Linked DNA regions of Homo sapiens. The protein of the gene in region 2 purifies or fractionates together with the protein of the main gene of each other region. This does not show direct contact. Each region holds a gene or a part of one and is shown on either strand. Other genes may lie near its edges.

Evidence for each region.
Region 1: the proteins of MTMR3 (region 2) and NUP205 purify together in Homo sapiens (affinity purification with mass spectrometry, with the first as the bait; one large-scale study listed by BioGRID). This does not show direct contact.
Region 3: the proteins of MTMR3 (region 2) and IPO5 purify together in Homo sapiens (affinity purification with mass spectrometry, with the first as the bait; one large-scale study listed by BioGRID). This does not show direct contact.
Region 4: the proteins of MTMR3 (region 2) and MAPK1IP1L purify together in Homo sapiens (affinity purification with mass spectrometry, with the first as the bait; one large-scale study listed by BioGRID). This does not show direct contact.
Region 5: the proteins of MTMR3 (region 2) and ORC4 purify together in Homo sapiens (affinity purification with mass spectrometry, with the first as the bait; one large-scale study listed by BioGRID). This does not show direct contact.
Region 6: the proteins of MTMR3 (region 2) and HEATR1 purify together in Homo sapiens (affinity purification with mass spectrometry, with the first as the bait; one large-scale study listed by BioGRID). This does not show direct contact.

Annotation. Positions count from the first base shown.
Region 1 is NC_000007.14:135,578,417-135,581,916, forward strand, and holds part of NUP205 (nuclear pore complex protein Nup205), read left to right. Parts: intron 1-334; coding exon 335-499; exon of another isoform or gene 500-510; intron 511-3,500. UniProt on the Homo sapiens protein: Plays a role in the nuclear pore complex (NPC) assembly and/or maintenance. May anchor NUP62 and other nucleoporins, but not NUP153 and TPR, to the NPC.
Region 2 is NC_000022.11:29,886,174-29,889,673, forward strand, and holds part of MTMR3 (phosphatidylinositol-3,5-bisphosphate 3-phosphatase MTMR3), read left to right. Parts: intron 1-3,500. UniProt on the Homo sapiens protein: Lipid phosphatase that specifically dephosphorylates the D-3 position of phosphatidylinositol 3-phosphate and phosphatidylinositol 3,5-bisphosphate, generating phosphatidylinositol and phosphatidylinositol 5-phosphate.
Region 3 is NC_000013.11:97,960,175-97,963,674, forward strand, and holds part of IPO5 (importin-5), read left to right. Parts: intron 1-172; exon of another isoform or gene 173-229; intron 230-2,985; exon of another isoform or gene 2,986-3,108; intron 3,109-3,500. UniProt on the Homo sapiens protein: Functions in nuclear protein import as nuclear transport receptor. Serves as receptor for nuclear localization signals (NLS) in cargo substrates.
Region 4 is NC_000014.9:55,054,647-55,058,146, forward strand, and holds part of MAPK1IP1L (MAPK-interacting and spindle-stabilizing protein-like), read left to right. Parts: intron 1-3,500.
Region 5 is NC_000002.12:148,014,238-148,017,737, forward strand, and holds part of ORC4 (origin recognition complex subunit 4), read right to left. Parts: intron 1-3,500. UniProt on the Homo sapiens protein: Component of the origin recognition complex (ORC) that binds origins of replication. DNA-binding is ATP-dependent. The specific DNA sequences that define origins of replication have not been identified yet.
Region 6 is NC_000001.11:236,584,017-236,587,516, reverse strand, and holds part of HEATR1 (HEAT repeat-containing protein 1), read left to right. Parts: intron 1-26; coding exon 27-115; intron 116-1,064; coding exon 1,065-1,276; intron 1,277-1,575; coding exon 1,576-1,697; intron 1,698-2,300; coding exon 2,301-2,492; intron 2,493-3,500. UniProt on the Homo sapiens protein: Ribosome biogenesis factor; required for recruitment of Myc to nucleoli. Involved in nucleolar processing of pre-18S ribosomal RNA. Required for optimal pre-ribosomal RNA transcription by RNA polymerase I.

The DNA.
Region 1 (3,500 bases), on a different chromosome or scaffold from region 2:
TTTTGTGATCTTTAGATAGCATGATTTCTATTTTAGAATTTATGTGCAGAAAAAATGAGTGTCTAACTTTTTTCTTGTTTATTTGTAGTACACTTATAAAAATGACTGAAAATAGTGAAATTGAAATTTAGGATTATTGTCATTTTCTTTTTTTGTTTTTAGTATGTGTACAATCAACAGTAGTGTACCTTTTGGGATGTAGAAATTAATGTTAATTGGTCATTATTCTTCTGTGAGAATGCTCAGATTTTCTGACTTTTGGATATTATTCCTGTGTATCAGAAGTGAGAATTTATCTGGTGATCGGTAAAGTGGTCTATTTTTGTGTTTTCAGATATGATTCATCAACTTCCACTGTTGACAGAAAAACAGTACATTGCAACAATTCACTCTCGTCTTCAGGACTCACAGCTTTGGAAACTGCCTGGGCTCCAAGCCACTGTTAGACTTGCCTGGGCGCTGGCATTGAGGGGAATATCCCAGCTACCTGATGTGACAGGTGAATTGATTGTAGGTAATTTTGTTATGAGAAACAGCATGTTAGCACTTAATGACATTTTTGGAAGGAGTATTATCTTTGACATACATAAGCATAAGCATAGGAAGATATCCAGAGTTGTATTAAATGAAACCTTTAGTGTAGTAGTGAAATACAGACTTTTTTCTCCTTGTCTCTCAAAAATATCATATGAAATACTATTTCCCATTCTTGGAGCCACTGACAATGCTCTTTTACCTTCAGGGTATGAGTTTAAAATTTGGAATGACAGTGTCACATTAATTTTTTTTTTTTTTGAGATGGAGTTTTGCTCTTGTTGCCCAGGCTGGAGTGCAATGGCACAGTCTCGGCTCACTGCAACCTCTGCCCCCCGGGTTCAAGCGATTCTCCTGCCTCAGCCTCCCAAGTAGCTGGGATTACAGGCATGCGCCACCACACCTGGCTAATTGTGTATTTTTAGTAGAAATGGGGTTTCTCCATGTTGGTCAGGCTGGTCTTGAACTCCCGACCTCAGGTGATCCGACTGCCTTGGCCTCCCAAAGTGCTGGGATTGCAACACGTGAGCCACCCCGTCCGGCCTTAAATGTTTTTTAAAATTAAAATATACTATTCCTTTTATTTTTATATATTTTACTTCTTGATTTGTTCACAAACTAGTTTTTCACATTGTGTCAAATTAAAAACAGTTATTTTTCCATACAGTGTATTAAAAAGGAGATATTTGGATCAGTCAAGAACAGATGTGGAATCCCGACTTTTCTTTTTTGTGGCCCAGGCTGGAGTGCAGTGGCTCGATCCCGGCTCACTGCAACCTCCACCTACTGGGTTCAAGTGATTCTCCTGCCTCAGCTTCTTAAGTAATTGGACTACAGGCACACGCCACCACACCCGGCTAATCTTTTGTATTTTTAGTAGAAACAGGGTTTCACCATGTTGGCTGGGCTGGTCTCGAACTCCTGAGCTCAGGTGATCCACTTGCTTTGGCCTCCCAGAGTGTTGGGTTTACAGGTGTGAGCCACCGCGCCTGACCAGAATACTGACTTTTAACAACCTGTTAACTCACTGTAGCATATATTATTCTGCTATTTACATTTACATTATTTAATTGTCATATTAGTAGGGGTTTATTCTAACAGAATGAGAACCATACATGGAACACGAAGCCCAAAGAATTGTCTTTTTATGGTAAATCTAGAAAGGCTTTATTCAAGTTTACAATTTATGTCAGTTTTCTAATCCTAAAGTATCAACAGATTCTAGTATCTTATCAATCGTGTAATTCCAGAACATTTTGTTTTCACTAGTGTCATGCTGTTCCCAAGGTGTTTGCAGAAAGCTTTTTTTGTGTTAGGAGTCTTTCTTTGGCCAGTTAATTTCTATCTGTCTGTCATCTATATATCTAAATGCTGATAGCGAATTAGACTTTTACATTCCCGTACAAATTCTGTTTCTCACCTGTACGTACCCTCATCATTTATAAGTCTTATTTCACTACTTTTCTGACATAAAGTTACCCTTTAACCTTTGAAGTGGCTATGTGATAGTTAATATCTTCTTTTTTTATTTTGGAGATGGAGTCTCGTTCTGTTGCCCAGACTGGAATGCAGTGGCATGATCTCAGGTCACTGCAACCTCTGCCTCCTGGGTTCAAGCAATTCTGCCTCAGCCTCCGGAGTACCTGGGACTATAGTCGCACGCCGCCACACCCAGCTAAGTTTTTGTATTTTAGTAGAGACAGGGTTTCACCGGGTTGCCTAGGCTGGTCTCGAACTCCGGAGCTCAGGCAATCTGCCTGCCTTGGCCTCCCAAAGTGCTGGGATTACAGGCGCGAGCCACCATGCCCAGGTGTGATAGTTAATATATTAACTATATAATATAGTTATACATAGATAGTTATTATAATATTATGTAATATGGTCACAATCTTATGCTATAATTGCCCATACCACTGCACTAGTTTTGAAAGGTTTAATAGAATATGCTATAGTTTGCTGTAGAATAATAGTAAAAATAGGTTAGGAATCACAGCCCTAGTTTCAAGTCCCAGATCTTTGGCTACTTAATCTCTTTGATTTTATATGCTCATATCCTTTTATAAGCTTTAATAGTTAGGGGTATTATAATTAGAATTTTTAAACTATAAAAATTTTTCTGTTAATTTGCATTTTAAAAATTGTTAGAAAAAATGACTAGCTTGTGTTATTTTGCAGAAATGGTCACTTCTTGAAATAATCCAGACAAGTTTTAACGAAGATCTCCAATTTGAAAAATTGGTTTCTGTTCTCTTCATAGACTTCTGAAACTTTTATCAAATGTTTTTATTATATTATTCTATAAAAGGCATGAAGCCAGGTGCAGTGCCTCATGCCTATAATCCCAGCATTTTGGGAGGCCAAGGTGGGAGGATTGCTTGAGCCCAGGAGTTCATGACAAACCTGGGCAATGTAGTGATACCTCATCTCTTCAAAAAATTAAAAATTAGCCCAGTGTGGTGACATGCCCTTGGCTGTAGTCCCAGCTACGCAGGAGGCTGAGGCAGGAGGATCACTTGAGCCCAGGAGAGAGGCTGTAGTGAGCTGAAATTGCTCCACTGCACTCCAGCCTGGGTGACAGAGTGAGATCACATCTCAAAAAAAATTAAAAAAACAAGCATCGGCCGGGTGTGGTGACTCACGCCTGTAATCCCAGCACTTTGGGAGGATGAGGCAGGTGGATCGCTTGAGGTCAGGAGTTCAAGACCAGACTGGCGAACGTGGTAAAAGCCCATCTCCACTAAAAACACAAAAAATTAGCCAAGCATGGTGGCGCGTGCCTGTAATCCCAGCTGCTTGGGAGACTGAGGCAGGAGAATTGCTTGAACCTAGTGGGCAGAGGTTGCAGTGAGCTGAGATCATGCCACTGCACTTTAGCCTGGGTGACAGAGTGAAACTCTGTTTCCAAAAAAAAAAAATCAACAAAAAAACCAAGCATTTTTGTAATTTCACTAAGCTTTACAGAATTT
Region 2 (3,500 bases):
AGCTACCTGATATTTTGCAATGGATTAAAGAGCCAATTTTTGATCAAATAGGGCTCTGGGTAGGAAAGAAAATGAAAATGAAGAGCCAGCTTTCAGTGCTTATTGTTTGGAATTTTTGAGATTCCTTTAAGAAATTGTTTTCTAAAGACTGTCATGAACATTATCGAGTCCCCTAGTTTTTGAGTCTTAATGAATCTTAAGTGTTTCAGATGTTAGTTACTTTTTTAAGAGCACAGTAAGTGCAAAGGTAGTATAGAATAGTGGGAAGTTCTGGATTGACAGACATATATTCTGATTCCATCTGTGTCATTTATTGCTGTTGGGAATGTCACTTAACTTCTCTGGGCGTCAGTTTTCTCATATATACAATTAAGGGCCTATAGTCTTTGACCTCAAGTAGTTTCTCTAGCCTGATTCTGCAAATTTTTAATCATTTCTAATTATGTTATTTGGTATTCATCTCATATAGGTAGATGAACTTTTATTATTTAAAAGAAACAAGATTCTGTGTTGGGTTCTGCTTTTAGCTTATGGATTTTAGACATTGTCCAAAAGTGCTTCCGATGTTGAATGTATGTTGCAAGTGTTATGTAGAAAGAACATGCTTATGCTGTTGTAATTGGCTTAGTGTTGAAATCAAATTGGGTTTTACATTGGGAACTTCATAATTTAGTGTGAAGTCATGAGACTTGAGAATGGTTTGGGGGGAGTTTGTGCAATTTATATAGCTAGCTGTTTCTTACCACCTAATTCTGTAATTTTCTATGATGAATATATAGATAAATTTATAATCAGTGTAACATTGATTTAAGTTATAAGATGATATCAGATTCATACTGGATTGAACTAGAACTCCCAGTAACTTTAGAGGCTACCAAATTATTAACATGTCATTGCTATTTTTAATCTTAATTTTGTGATATCAATACTGATATGCTTTCATCTTTGCTTTTGTATCTAGAAACAATATACCTTTTAAGTTCATATTTGTATCAGATATTAAAAATGAAAATTGTAGCATGAAAGTGGGTAGATAGTAAATCTTGGGTTCAAGCCTGGGTTGTTATTCTTCATTACCCATGTTGTTTCTGGCAAGCTACATAACCCCCCTGAGCTCCAGTTCCCTCATTAGTGAAAGGAAGAAGAGCAACTTTTCTACTTTTCTAACAGACTGTGGATCAAACAATAGTGTATATGAAAAGCATTCTAAAAATGTAAGGGGCTGGTATTAGAATCGTATTGTATTAGAATCCTATTTTATGTCTTTGAAGAATTGGCTTGTGGAGCAGTGGTAAACCTAGTCTGTATTGTCAAGTGCAGAATTTACCAATATCACTGATATGGCAACAGAGAAGGTTTCTGCTTCTGTACTCTGGCTGGAGAAACCTTTCAGCACATGTATCCTGTCTGCCAGTCGGAATAGTCACAATGTTGCAGGGACTTCAGAGGAACCTGGGATGTCTCACATTTATGCCAAGGTCTCTACTTGGAATAGACTTGGCTAGATTTCACCCATTTTCTTATGTTGGAGCAGTGGTAGAAGGTGGTAGGAGCAAGGAGTTCAGCACATTCTGTGTAAAGTTCTAAGGCTGTGTTTTTAAGTAGCAGGTGGCAGTGTCATAGGGTAATGAAATCAATGTACTTATTTAAAAAAGCATTTTCAGAAAGAGAATATATCAGTACATTGCATAAAGTAAAAGTAAATATAGACACAGAGGTATTGTCTTGATGCTGATAGCTGCAGATATTCAGAATGATTCTGTTACAACAGATGGTAGCAAGCTTTTCTGATTTCACTTATCTGGGGTCTAAATCTAATTTCTTTAGTAGTTAATACTGTTTTGTTTTGTTTTTTTTTTTGGACACAGAATCTTGCTCTGTTTGCCCAGGCTAGAGTGCAGTGGCACGATCTCGGCTCACTGTAACCTCTGCCTCCCGGGTTCAAGATTTGGGAAACTTTTGTTTCTTTTTAAAAGATATTTTTATGTATGTATACTTGGTTGCCGTGTAAAATGTATTTTTTCTTTTTAAAAATTATAATTTTCATTTTTTGTAGAGACAGGGTTTTGCTACGTTGCCCAGGCTGGTCTTGAACTCCTGGGCTCAAAGGTAGTCCTCCTGCTTTGGCCTCCCAAAGTGCTGGGATTGTAGACATGAGCCACTGTGCCTGGCCTAAAAGGTTGTTTTTTTCTTTTGGGTTGTGATAAAACTTTGTCGTCGTTGTTTGGGGACATAGTACTTGGGCAATGTGGATAGAATGACTGTCTATAAAATAGTAAGGCATGAAACTAACGAAAACAAAAAGAAAATTGTGAAGGTGGGTTACCTTAAAGCTATTCTGTTAGTGGTGAAATACCTCATAGCTATGTTCTGAACTGTTGATTTAATGAACAAAGCACATGAACTTATGCTGTAATAATATTCTTAAGTACTCTTTTCCCTTAACATGGAGTATGGAGTACTTTAACCACAGAGGTATTGTCTTGATGCTGATAACTACGGATATTCAGAATGATTCTGTTATGACAGATGATAGCAAGCTTTTCTGATTTCACTTACCTGGGGTCGAAATCTAATTTCTTTATTAGTTAATACTTTTTTTTTTTTTTTTTTTTTTTGAGACAGAGTCTCGCTCTGTTGCCCAGGCTGGAGTGCAGTGGCGCGATCTCGGCTCACTGTAACCTCCGCCTCCTGGGTTCAAGTGATTCTCCCTGCCTCAGCCTCCCCAAGTCGTTAATACTTTTATAACTTAGTTGCAGAAGAGAAATATAAATTTATTTAGTTTTCAGAATTATTCATAGATTTATAATCTGGCAAAATATAAGGAAATTATAAGTATATTGATAAATCATGACATAACTGGCAAGAATTGGTATGAAGACAAGATGGTTATAACTTGAAATAGGGTTGTTATTTATTCTATGCCTATCATTTTTCCATGAGATAAACCAAATATTTAATTGTTTAGACTGATTCCACAAATGACATGGGAAGGCAGAGTGTTTATAAAGAGTTTTGGAAGTGATATAGGACACTATAATTTGGAGTTTTAACTTAATCTTATTTTAAATTTCAAAATGAAATTATTTCTGGTTATGAAAGCTACGGAACTTTTTTTTTTTTTTTTTTTTTTAGATGGCGTCTCGCTCTGTCACTCAGGCTGGAATGCAGTGGTGTGATCTCAGCTCACTGCAACCTCAGCCTCCTGGTTCTAGCAATTCTGCTGCCTTAGCCTCCTGAGTAGTTGGGATTACAGGTACCTGCCACCACGCCTGGCTAATTTTTGTATTTTTAGTAGAGACAGGGTTTCACCATGTTGGCCAGGCTGGTTTCGAACTCCTGACCTCAGGTGATCCGCCTGCCTTCGCCTCCCAAAGTGGTGGGATTACAGGCGTGAGCCACTGCACCTGGCCCAGAACGGTTTTAGTGTTTTTTAAAAAAAAAAGTAGAGATGACCTGTAATCCCATCTGGATGTAATGTTTGGTATTTTTGTTTTTTT
Region 3 (3,500 bases), on a different chromosome or scaffold from region 2:
ACAATTCAGACTCCATTATGTATGTCCTCACAATGCAGGAGGTGAAATGTGTATGTCATGTGTCCAAATTGTAAGATACTTGCTGTAAGTAGCAAAAAGATGGGAAGGAAAGTCTACAGACCAAATCATATCTGAATCTCCCCATTCTCCCTCTCCACAAATATTGGTTTAGGAATTCTCCGAAGTTTGAAGGTTATGAATGGTTATCACTCAAGGATTCAGAACTAAGGTAAAAATACTGTGAATGATAGGGGGAAAAAATCACTAATTGAGGTCTAAATCAATATCCTTCAGCTCTCTAAGGAAATGTATTTTTAATATAATAGCTTTATTGAGACATTCATACACCATAAAGTCCAAATTTTACTTTTTATTTTATTTATTTGGTTTTTTTTTTTTTTGAGATGGAGTTTCACCCTTGTCACCCAGGCTGGAGTGCAATGGCATGATCTCGGCTCACTGCAACCTCCACCTCCTGGGTTCAAGCAATTCTCCTGCCTCAGCCTCTTGAGTAGCTGGGATTACAGTCGCGCACCACTACGCCCAGCTAACTTTTGTACTTTCAGTAGAGACAGCGTTTCACCATGTTGGTCAAGCTGGTCTCGAACTCCTGACCTCAGGTGATCCACTCGCCTGAGCCTCCCAAAGTGCTGGGATTACAGGCATGAGCCACCTCACCCAGCCTAAAGTTCAACCTTCTAAAGTGTACAATGGAGTGTTTAGTATATTCAGTGGGCTGCACATTCATCACTATCACCCTTTCCTCACCCTAAAAGAAAACTCCATACCTGCTAGCACTCACTGATTCCCCTACCCACCCCATGCCCAGGCACATGGCAAGCACCAATCTACTGTCTATGGATGTGCTGATTCTGGACATTTCCCATAAGTGGGACCAAAAAAATGTGTGGTCTTTTTGTCTGATTTCCTTCAGGCAGTCTAATGAGTTTAAGGTTCACTCATGTTGTTACATGTATCATTACTTTATTCTTTTATTGCGAAGTAATATTTCCTTGTATAGTTAGAAGACATTTTGTTTATCCATTCACCAGTGGATGGACAGTTGAATTGTTTCCACTTTTTGGCTGTGGTGAATAATGTTGCCATGAACATTCATGTACAAGTTTTTGTGTCAACATATGTTGTCTTTTCTCTTGCACATATACCTAGGAGTGAAATTACTGAGTCAAATGGTAACTCAGGCTGGAGTGCAATGGCACGATCTCGGCTCAACGCAACCTCTGCCTCCCAGGTTCAAGTGATTCTCATGCCTCAGCCTCTCGAGTAACTGGAATTACAGGCATGCGTCACCACACCCAGCTTATTCAGACTGTTTTCCAAATTGGCTGTAACATTTTATGTTCCTATTAGCAAAGTATGAGCGTTTGAATTTCTCCACATTCTTGTCAACACTTGCTGTTGCCTTTTTTATTAAAGCCATTTTATTGGGTATGAAGTGGTAACTTACATTGTGGTTTTGATTTGCATTTCTCTAATGATGAATGATGTTGCACATCTTTTCATGTGCTTATTGGCCATTTGTATATTTTCTCTGGAGAAATGTCTATTCAAATGTTTTACCCATTTTTTTAATTGGGTTGTCTTTTTTTAATTGAGAGTAGGGCTTTTTAAATATTCTGGATATAAGTCCCTTATAAGACATATGATTTGTGGCCAGGCGCAGTGGCTCACACCTGTAATCCCAGCACTTTGGGAGACCAAAGTGAGTGGATCACTTGAGGTCAGGAGTTCAAGACCAGCCTGGCCAACACGGCAAAACCCCATCTCTACTAAAAATACAAAAATTAGCTGGGCGTGGGGGCGCACACCTGTAATCCCAGCTAATCTGGAGGCTGAGGCAGGAGAATCACTTGAACCTGGGAGGCAGAGCCTGCAGTGAGCTGAGATCATGCCAATGCATTCCAGCCTGGGTGACAGAGTGAGACTTTGTCTCAAAAAATATACATTATTTGCATATATTTTCTCCCATTCTATGAGTTGTCTTTTCTCTTTCTTGATGGTGTCCTTAAAAGCACAAAGGTTTTAATTTTGTGAAGTTCAATGTATCCATTTTTCTCTTCTGCCTTTTGTGATTTTGATGTCATAGCTAAAAAATGATTGCCTACCCCAAAGCGATGAAGATTTAGTCCTATATTTTCTTGTAAGAATTTTATAGTTTTAGCTCTTACATTTAGTCTATGATCCACTTTGAAGTTTTTATGACGTGAAGTATGGGTCCAGCTTCATTCTAACGCATGTGGATATCAAGTTGTACCGGCAACAATCTTTCCACAGTGAACAGTCATGGCTCCTATATTAGCCAGGGTCCTCAAGAGAAAATGAACCAATAAGAAATAGATGGATGGGCACAGTGGCTCACACCTGTAATCCCAGCACTTTGGGGGGCCCAGGCAGGCAGATCACTTGAGGTCAGGAGTTCGAGACCAGCCTGGCCAACATGGTGAAACCCCTGTCTCTATTAAAAATACAAAAAATTAGCTGGGTATGGTGAGGCACATCCGTAGTCCCAGCTGCTCAGGAGGCTGAGGCACAAGAATCACTTGAGCCTGGGAGGCAGAGGTTGCAGTGAGCCAAGATTGTGCCACTGCACTCCAGCCTGGGTGACAGAGTGAAACTGTCTCAAAAAAAAAAAAAAGGTAGATAGATAGATTTATTTTAAGGAATCTGCTACATAATTATGAGAGATGGAAAGTTCAAATCCTGCAGGGCAGGCTAGCAGGCTGGAAATTCAGGTTTGAGTTGATGTTGTAGTCTTGAGTTTGAAATCTGAAGGGCAAACCAGCAGGTGGAGATTCGGGCAAGGTTTCTGTGCTGTGGTCTTGTAGCAGAATTGTTTCTTCCCCCAGAAACCTCCATCTTTGCTATTAAGGCCTTCAACTGATTAGATGAAGCCCACCCACCTTGTGGAGGGTAATTTGCTTTAGTTAAAGTCAACTGATTATAAATGTTAAATTGTATCCACAGATACTTTCCCAGCAACATCTAGACTGCTGTTTGACCAAACAACGGGGCTCCAACAGCCTAGCCAAGTGAAACATAAAACTAACCATCACAGTATCCTTGTCAAAAATCAGTCTGACAACACATGTAAGGTTTATTTCTGGAGTCACTATTCAATTCCATTGATCTATATGTCTGTCCTTATGCCGGTAACACTTGTGTCTTAATTATTATAGCTTTTTTTTTTTTTTTTGAGACGGAGTCTAGCTCTGTCACCAGGCTAGAGTGCAGTGGTGGAATCTCAGCTCACTGCAATCTCCGCCTCCTGGGTTCAAGCAATTCCCTTGCCTCAGCCTCCCAAGTAGCTGGGACTACAGGCATGCACCCTCACGCCCGGCTAATTTTTTGTATTTTAGTACAGATGGGGTTTCACCATGTTGGCCAGGATGGTCTCGATCTTCTGACCTCATGATCTGCCCGCCTCAGCCTCCCAAAATGCTAGGATTATAGGTGTGAGCCACTGCACCCGGCCATTATTA
Region 4 (3,500 bases), on a different chromosome or scaffold from region 2:
TTGTCAAAAGATAACCGTCAAAAGGATTCATGTCCGGGTTTCATCACTGTGTAGTCCCATACTGTTTATCACTCCATCACAATTTGAAGGCTGTCTGAAATATCCATGAACTCCACTGGTAATTCATGGAGTTCAACTCTCTTAACCACCCTCCTCCCTGACCCATGATTTTTACCCTAACAGCCATGAGAGTTTCCAAAAATGTTATGTTTTACTTTTCTAGTGTATGTCAAAAGACATTTTGTACTGTTTTAAAATTACTATTCTTGCTATTCAAAGAATAAAAAGTATTGTTTTTCAGATGATGGGTGGATCATGCTATAAAATGGTAACAAAGTTTTGGAAATAATAGCTTTAGATTATTCCAAAAAGAAAAAAAAGAAAGCCTTTCTTGAGTATAAATTGTTTTTATGAGTTCAAGGTTACATTGGCCTCATCTTAATAATTAGCGATGATTCAGATATTTTGGAATAGCTTTATATTTTTATTTATTTTTCTTTTTGAGACAGAGTGCCACTAATATTGCCCAGGCTGGTCTCTTAACTACTGGCCTCAAGCGGTCTTCCCACCTCAGCCTCCTGAGAAGCTGGGATTACAGGTGCACACTACCAAGCGCGGCTTAGAATAGCTTTTTAGAAAACCTAAACTTTTTATGTTCTGCAACTCTCCTCATATTGAAACGTTCATGTCCAACTGTTTTTCACCTTTTCTAATGAAAGTATTCTCCAAAGAACAAATTGGAATGCTTCCAATTATAGTTGTTCCCCCTTATCCTAGGGGGACACATTGCAAGACTCCCCAATGAATCCCTGAAACTGAAGTCTGTATACACTGCCGAAGCCTAAGTATACCATGTTTTTTAGATCTAATAACCAAGATGGGCTGATAGCGTATACAGCATGGATACACTGGACAAAGGGATGATTCACGTCCTAGGCAGGAGGGGGCAAACTTTCATTTTGCTACTCAGAACATGCTCTTGCCCCATTTAAAACTTAGGAATTGGCCAGGTGCAGTGGTTCATGCCTAATCCCAGCACTTTGGGAGACTGAGGTGGGCGGATTACTTGAGGCCAGGAGTTTGAGACCAGCCTGGCCAACATGGTGAAACCCCGTCTCTACCAAAAATTAAAAATTAGCCGGGCGTGGTGGCACGTGCCTATAATCCCAGCTACTTGAGAGGCTCAGGTAGGAGAATCACTTAAACCTGGGAGGCGGAGGTTGCAGTGAGTCAAGATCACACTACTGCACTTTAGCCTGGGTGGCAGAGCGAGACTCCATCTCAAAAACAAAACAAAAAACTTACGAATTATTTATTTCTGGAATTTTTCATTTAATATGTTCGGACCTTAGGTAATTAAAACCACAGATAAGGGGGGATCACCCTAACATGAACGCTGTTTATTCTAGGAATGGAGAGCTGGTCACTTTACTAAGACAGTGCCGTAGAACAGAACTTGTTACTAATTCCTATGCTTAGGGCTTTGTTTTTTAATCACAAGATTCTAGCACCTCCCCTATCTTCCAGACTTGGATTTTGAACTTTAAAATTTTGAAGTAGTGTTGTGAATCAGTTGAATATTATTAACTTGTAGAATAATTTATGTAATTCCATGACTAGGTAACTGTATAATTCTGAAAACCTGAACAGTCAAGGCCATTTGGTTCACTTTGATTCTCAACTCCAGAATTAATATGAACTTTGATACAGAATCATTTTCTATTTCAGAAAGGCTAACCCTGTTTAAAAAGCATGTTAGCCTTACAACTTACCGTATATTTTCTACACTGTTAGTCCTAAAAATTTTATTGTGTGATGTGATTGACGTTAAACCTTAACATGGGAATGGGTTGTATGTGGGTTTTTTTGTTTTTTTGTTTTTGAGACGGAGTTTGCACTGTCACCCAGGCTGGAGTGCAGTGGCTTGATCTCAGCTCACTGCAAGCTCCGCCTCCTGGGTTCGCGCCATTCTCTTGCCTCAGCCTCCTGAGTAGCTGGGACTACAGGTGCCCACCATTATGCCTGGCTAATTTTTTGTATTTTTAGTAGAGACGGGGTTTCACCTTGTTAGCCAGGATGGTCTCAATCTCCTGACTTCGTGATCCGCCCTCCTCGGCCTCCCAAAGTGCTGGGATTACAGGCGTGAGCCACCGCGCCCGGCCATGTTTTTTGATATTCTGAATAAAAAGGATATAGCAGTTGGGATAGGCTTGGGTTCTTGTCCTTTATGTTCTTGTCCTTTCCTCATGATAATCAAATCATAATTAGAAATAAGATGCTAAGAATACAAAGGTGGCTCTATGTTAATACTGTATTGATAGGTCAAAGGAGAAAAAGCATGAGATCAATTCATTAGATACTGAAAAGTCTTTTGAGGGAATTTAATGTCTTCTTGCTTTCTTTATTAACAGAATAGGAATAAATAATAGCATAGGCATAAATTAAAAATAATGTAATTTTTTAAAATCTCAAACTAAAAATGGGAATCATACTTAAACATTAGCATTCCCAGGAGAGTTGGAGCAAGACCTCTGTGCCCACTATCACTCAACATTTCATTATTTAAGTCCTAGCAAGTGCAAAACAGAAAAGATGCATAAATATTAGAGAAGGAAAGTTATTTTTTGCAAATGGCGTATTTTTTATCTGGAAATACCAGAGAATCAAGTGAGAAACTTTGAAGAATAAAATAATTCAGTAATGATGCTTCCTACCCTAGGTTAATTAATATAAAGAAGAGTTAAATTCCTATGGCATATTTCTGGTAACAAAAACATCACTAAACTTTTAAATAAAACCCAAAACACTTCTAGTATTAAACATTTAAATGAGCTGGGCGCAGTGGCTCACGCCTGTAATCCCAGCACTTTGGGAGGCCAAGGTGGGCGGATCACAAGGTCAAGAGATGGAGACCATCCTGGACAACATGGTGAAACCCCGTCTCTACTAAAAATACAAAAATTAGTGGGTGTAGTGGCCCGCACCTGTAGTCCCAGCTACTCAGGAGACTGAGGCACGAGAATCGCTTAAACTGAGGAGGCGGAGGTTACAGTGAACCAAGATCGCGCCACTGCACTCCAGTCTGGCGACAGAGCGAGACTCCATCTCAAAAAAAAAAAAAAATTTAAATGATTTCTACTAAAAATTTTAAAAATTAGCATGCCTATGGTCCCAGCTACTCAAAGGCTAAGGTGGGAGGATCCACTTGAGCCTGGGAGGTGGAGGTTGCAGTGAGCTGTGATCACACCACTGCACTCCAGCCTCGGTGACAGAGCAAGACCCTGTCTCAAAAAAAAATTGAATGAATGTGAGCTGTGTATACATTTAAGAAAGATTAATAAAAAGATAATTATTTGCCTCCCTCTTCCAGTTCAGGGTCTCAATGGCTGGAGCCTTTCTTGGCAATTCAGAGTCCAAGTTGGGAACCAGCCCTGAACTGGACGCCATCCCAGCACAGGGTGCTCTCACCTACACCCACGCTCACAGACTGGGCCGCGTAG
Region 5 (3,500 bases), on a different chromosome or scaffold from region 2:
AAAGCTGGGGACTCAGATAAACTACCCAATTTATGTTCAGAGTTTAAGGACAACATCATTAGGATAAGAGGAAATTGAAGGAAAATAGAATTCATGATCTTAAAGTCTTCCTTAATGTCATGTGTATAACAGAAGGAATCCCAACTCTTGAACATGAATAGTGACTTGGGACTGAAAGCACTCCTAGAGACCTTTCCTAGAAAAATGTACCTTCTTAAAAAAGATACTATTATTCTAGGACTCATATATTCCTATAATTTTTTAAATACAACTGGTACTCAAGGCACACAAGAAAAAAATATCATAAGCTAGCAGACACAGACTTAGAAAATTTAGAAACTGGAATTATCTTCAACAAACAACAAATGAACTATGAATATAGTCGGCCCTTCATAGCCACAGATTCACTCAACCAAGGATTAAAAATACATGTATATTTTTAAAAACACGACTATAAAAAATAATAGAAATTTTTAAAAAGCCATGACAGTATAACAATATTTACATAGCATCTACATTGTATTAGGTACCATAAGCAATCTAGAGATTATTTAAAATACGTGGGAGGATGTGTGTAGGCCGTATGCAAACATGATGGCATGTTATATAAGGAATTTGAGCTGCCTGTGGATTGTGGTATCTGCACGGGGTTCTGAAACCAATTTCCAGCAGATACTAAGGAGCAACTATACTAGGCCAATAAAAGCAAGATTGTAATTTTCAGCAGGTAACCAGAAACAGTAAGAATATCACCAATATCTTTAAAAAGATACTGATGCATTGATCTAATAATCTCGATGAATACAGGGCAAGATAAAGAATGCCACACGATGATTGAACATTTCCTCTACCCCCACAACCACACTTGACTAGGAGAAAAAAAAAAAAGAAGAAAAGAATTCCACACAAAAAGATTAGAGTGAAACAGCAGAAAAATTACAACCAAAAAAAGAAACAAACAAAAAAAAATTCTAAAAGAGAGATTTCCTTCAAAGCAGCATGAATTATTAGGTTGGTACAAAATTAATTGTGGTTTTTGCATTGTTGGAATTTGCCATTTGATATTGGAATTTTTTTTTTTTTTTTTTTTTTTTTGAGATGGAGTCTCTCTCTGTTGCCCAGGCTGGGCTGCAGTGGCGCGATCTCGGCTCACTGCAAGCTCTGCCTCCAGGGTTCACACCATTCTCCTGCCTCAGCCTTCTGAGTAGCTGGGACTACAGGCACCCGCCACCACGCCTGGCTAATTTTTTGTATTTTTAGTAGAGACAGGGTCTCACCATGTTAGCCAGGATGGTATCGATCTCCTGACCTCGTGATCCGCCCACCTCAGCCTCCCAAAGTGCTGGGATTACAGGTGTGAGCCACCACACCCGGCCTGGAATACATTCTTAAATAAATGTGGTTATGTTATATGTCATTTTAATGGGCATTTCTTGCTTTTTTTTTTTGGCTAATGACTTATTACTTGCTGTTTATATTTATTTTGGACTATGGAAATGATGCTAGACAAAAAGCAAAGTTGAGTGATTTTCTTATTTAAGTTCAAAGTGGGTCGTAAAACAGCAGAGACAACTTGCAATATCAACAATGCATTTGGCCCAGGAACTGCTAATGAACGTACAGTGCAGTGGTGGTTCAAGAAGTTTTGCAAAAGATACCAGAGCCTTGAGGATGAGGAGTGTAGTGGCAGGCCACTGGAAGTTGACAACAACCAATTGAGAGCAATCATTGAAGCAGATTGATCCTCTTACAATTACATGAGAAGTTGCTGAAGAACTCAACGTAAGAACTCAACGTCAACCATTCCACAGTTGTTCAGTATTTGAAGCAAATTGAAAAGGTGAAAAAGCTCGATAAGTGGGTGCCTCACCAGCTGAGCAAAAATTTAAAAAAACACCGTTTTGAAGTGTTGTCTTCTCTTATTCTCCACAACAACGAACCATTTCTCAATCGGACTGTGAGGTGCAACAAAAACTAGATTTTATATGACAAGCAATGACCAGCTCAGTGGCTGGACCGCGAAGAAGCTCCAAAGCACTTCCCAAAGCCAAACTTGCACCAAAAAAGGCCATGGTAACTGTTTGCTGGTCTGCTGCCGGTCTGATCCACTACAGCTTTCTGAATCCTGGAGAAACCATTACATCTGAGAAGTATGCTCAGCAAATCAATGAGATGCACTTAAAACTGTGATGCCTGCAGCCAGCATGGGTCAACAGAAAGGGCCCAATTCTCCACAGTAACACCCAACCGCACACTGCACAACCAACACTTCAAAAGTTGAACGAACTGGGCTACAAAGTTTTGCCTCATCTGCCATATTCACCTGACCTCTCAACTGACTACCACTCCTTCAAGCATCTCTACAACTTTTTTCAGGGAAAATGCTTCCACAACCAGCAGGATGCAGGAAAAAGCTTTCCAAGAGTTTGTGGAATCCTGAAGCATGGATTTTTACATTACAGGAAAAAACAAACTTATTTCTTGTCGGCAAAAATGTGTTGATTGTAATGACCTATTTTAATTAATAAAGATATGTTAGAGCCTCGTTATAATGATTTAAAATTCGCTGTCCCAAACCACAATTTCTTTTGTACCAACCTAATGCATTGACAGCTGATTTCTCAAAATCAATAATGAAAACCAAAAACAGTGAAATGTTATCTTCAAGGTACAAGTAAAACAACCACAAATCTGTAATATCCCCCAAAACATTCTTCAAGATTGAAGGCAAAACAAAAAATTAAGACAAAGCAAAAAAATTAAGAGAACTGACCATCAGAATGTCTGCATTATGAAACTTCTACTGAGTGTGCTAAAGTAAAAGTTAAAAGATTCCAAAAGAAAAGTCAGAGACGCAGGAAGAAATTAAGACATGGTAAACACATAGGAACATCTAGCTCAAAGTACTGTCCAGCAGCAATACAGTAAAAGTGACATAAGTAATTTAAAATTTTCTATTGTTCACACTAAAAGAAAACAAGGTGAAATCAATTATAATTTCAACATGTAATCATAATGAAAAGCTGAGGTATTTTACATTGTTTTCATACTGTCTTTGAAATATGGTGTTTATACAACATTACAATGCAGATGCTAAATTAAAACTGCCATATAAAATACTTGATCTATATTTTTATATAATTTGCAGCTAATGCCGGGTGCAGTGGCTCACGTCTGTGATCCCATCACTTTGGAAGCCCAAGGTGGGTGGATCACTTGAGGTCAGGAGTTTGAGACCAGCCTAGCCAAAATGGTGAAACTTTGCCTCTACTAGAAATAAAAACATTAGCCAGGTGTGGTGGCACATGCTTGTAATCCCAGCTACTAGGGAGGCTGAGGCAGGAGAATCACTTGAACTTGGGAGGCGGAGGTTGCAGTGAGCCAAGATCATGCCACTGGACTCCAGCCTGGGCAACAGAGCGAGACTCCATCTCCAGGGGGGAAAAAATCTCCAAAAATTAAAAAATAATAATTTAATAATTTGCGGTTAAGAAAGGTTT
Region 6 (3,500 bases), on a different chromosome or scaffold from region 2:
TACTCTGGATATTTTTTTCCCTTTAGATTTTCAAAGAACACTTCAGTTCAGAAGTGACGATTTCAAATCTTCTGAATCTCTTTCAAAGAGCAGAACTTTCAAAGAATGGAGAATGGTATGTATTCATTTCTCCTCATACTATTTTGAATTGATGAAGTTCTTATATCAAGTTCTTTCTATTTCTTCTTCTTTTTTTTTTTAAGGCTTTGATTACATGACCCTTTTGTCGTGGTAGTAGAACAGATCTTACTGTAATACTCTCTTTCATTATACAGTTAATTAATTTGTGTTTGTGTGTGTTCATTATACTGTTCTCTATGTTTGGAATTTCTCTTAATAAAATGCAAAAGGAAGTATATAATGTATGATATTGCATTCTGGGAAGTAAGATGGGTAGGACTTTCTAATTTGCTGCTTTATGTAATTTTTACTTTATAATTAAAAACAAATACCAATGTGTTAAACAAATTAAAAAATAAGTTCAGAGACACATGATACCATCTGTGGTAAGTTTTTAATGAGCTCTGTTTATTTCATTTTTGGCACCAAAGCTTTTTGCAAGAAAAAGTAAGCAAGCTCCATAGAGGATGAGAGTGTGTCTTACGTGTTTTTGTATCTATCGTATGGGTAGATATCTATCATGTAGGATGTGCTTGGTTCATTTTTTTTGAGTGCCTGAGTGAACCTGATTTCCGGTAGAGTTGAGACATCTAGTGTGATATGTCTTATGTTATAGTTAACCTCTAGTGATTTCTCTAAGAAAAATTATTATTTTTTTTTTAAGATTAGACAGGATGAGCAGATTAAAAGTATTGTTGGCCAGGCACAGTGGCTCATGCCTGTAATCCCAGCACTTGTACAAAAAATAAATAAATAAAAATATTGTCACAGATAACTCTGTTATTGGCATGGATTTTAAGTGGTGTCTTAGTGTATCTGAATAATAGTTTTGGTCAGGAGACCAGGATATTGTCAGTTAAGCTGGAGTAATGTAATGATGAATTTTTGCCCAATTGAAGCCTTCCAATGTGTCTTTCAACCAAGTGTGCTTGCATGTCTTTTAGGTACGAGGTACTTAAGATAGCCGCTGACATATTAATTAAAGAAGAGATACTGAGTGAAAATGATCAGTTGTCAAATCAGGTGGTTGTATGTTTGCTGCCATTTATGGTTATCAATAATGATGATACGGAATCTGCTGAGATGAAAATTGCTATATATTTATCAAAATCAGGAATCTGCTCCCTGCACCCTCTATTAAGAGGCTGGGAAGAAGGTAAAAAATTCAGTTGTTTTTTTAGAAAAAGTGAACAGATAACACAAAAGAAAACAAGGAAAATTTAAAATTTATTGTTGGTCATGCTTATATGCCAGTAAGGTCTTTTAAAATTTTTGCCAAGATAAAAAGTATACAGTGAAAAGGAAGCCAATTCATAGACAAATTCAGAATCGGATACAAGGAAAAATAGAAAGCAAACCTTCATAAACAATAGTAAAATGTTTGCCTGAATTCTTCATGTGATTCTTTGAGTGTTGGTGACATAAGAGCTCTCTGCATTCGATTTTACTTTACAGCTCTTGAAAATGTAATTAAAAGCACAAAGCCAGGAAAACTAATCGGTGTAGCAAATCAGAAGATGATTGAGTTGTTGGCTGATAATATAAATTTAGGAGATCCTTCTTCAATGTTAAAGATGGTAAGTATGCTTTGAAAGTCCACCCCCTGGATTTCTTTCTCATACTCTTATTAAATTCTCAGCTTTTGCTTTACTAGATTTTTCTTAAAAAAAATTTCTTTTATTCTTGAGTACTTGGTTTTACTTTAAACGTTGCAGTGTTGTTTAATATATTCTGTGCAATGTTTGAAATCTTTTAACATTTTATATATTTTTTCAATGTGGATCCATATCACACCCATAAGAATAATATATCCTTTTTACCACCATTTTTTCTCATTCCCATTTAAAATATTAGTCTTTTTGTTGTTGTTGTTGTTAAAATAGCAAAATATAATCCCAAAGAGGAGAAAATTATCTTTGCCTTATTAAATAAACCTTTGTAAAGGATTAGATGTGTGATTTAAATACATTAACCAGTTGGCAAGTGCAATTATGTTCATTACAGTTTCTGAAATTATTCTTATAATTACTTAGAAATCAGTGCTTAGTACTTTATAAAGGCTTTCTGTTTGTCATCTCACTTTAAATGTAAAACACATAATACCTAGATAGACCTGAGTTGAAAAAATTGTTTTATGAAAATCAAGAGCAACTGGTAATAGAGTGTGTTTATTTTTCAAGGTGGAGGATTTAATAAGCGTGGGTGAGGAGGAGTCCTTTAACCTGAAGCAGAAAGTAACGTTTCATGTGATCCTGTCTGTGCTCGTCTCTTGTTGTTCATCTTTAAAAGAAACCCACTTTCCATTTGCGATAAGAGTCTTCAGTTTGTTGCAGAAAAAAATAAAGAAGCTTGAAAGTGTCATTACTGCAGTGGTAAGGAAAGCAGAATCTCCAGAAAGTGGGATGTTGAATAAAACAACAGCCTGGCCTATTAGTCACAGCAAAACTGAAAATCAGAGGCGAGATGTTGAGTCTGTGGATAGTAGCTGGATGAAATGTGAAGCAGTCTTGGGTAGCAGTGAGATAGTCAACTAGGCACTCCCTTGCTTTTGCGGAAAGTTTAGTTGAATTATAAAATTTTAGGGTTGCAATATTTTGTATCTGATGCCTGACTCTCCTCTCTTTTATTGTCTTTATTGGATAATTACCCAAGCTACACCTAACTACCTCTAGCGATGAAGAATTCACTTGGTGTGTTAGTGCTTGAACAAAATACTATTTCATTCAATTGTTTACTAAAAATAGATCTTTTAGGCTTTAAATAATTTTAATATTACATAGATGTGTATCCCTCCAGCCTACTACTGTCTTTCATAGTATTACTAAAGGACATGTTTCAGCTGTTTACATTTGACATGTTTTGAGGTAGCAAGACTTTTTTTTTAATATCTGCTATATGTAAGGATTTTGTTTTTATTTGTCCTCCAAATTTTAGAGGGCTTCTCATTATAGGATTTACTAAATGAATTATATCTTTTTCACATTTACGTATACCCGCAGGATTTTATAAGTTCTGATCATGGCCATTGTTAGCTAAAATGTGTAAACTTTAAAAAGAGTAAAATCTTCATATTTTGAAAAATAGTCCAGATAGGCCCTTCTTAACTTTTAGTTTCTTGGTGTCTTTTGTGAAGTATGATGACCTGAACTATACTGGTTCTCAGTGTTAAAAGTATGGACAAATAGAGTGTTTTATTATACATATGTAGATAACAGGTTATTTTATATTGCTTTACTTTTAATACCTTTCTCGAGGTCATGAGCATGTTTTCGCCTGTAGCAGCACGTTGAGTTAATCAAATCCCTCACTGGAGACGTTACATTGTAAATCTGGCTTTGGATTATTTTCCTTCTAAGTTATTACTCTGTACTGCTTGTACA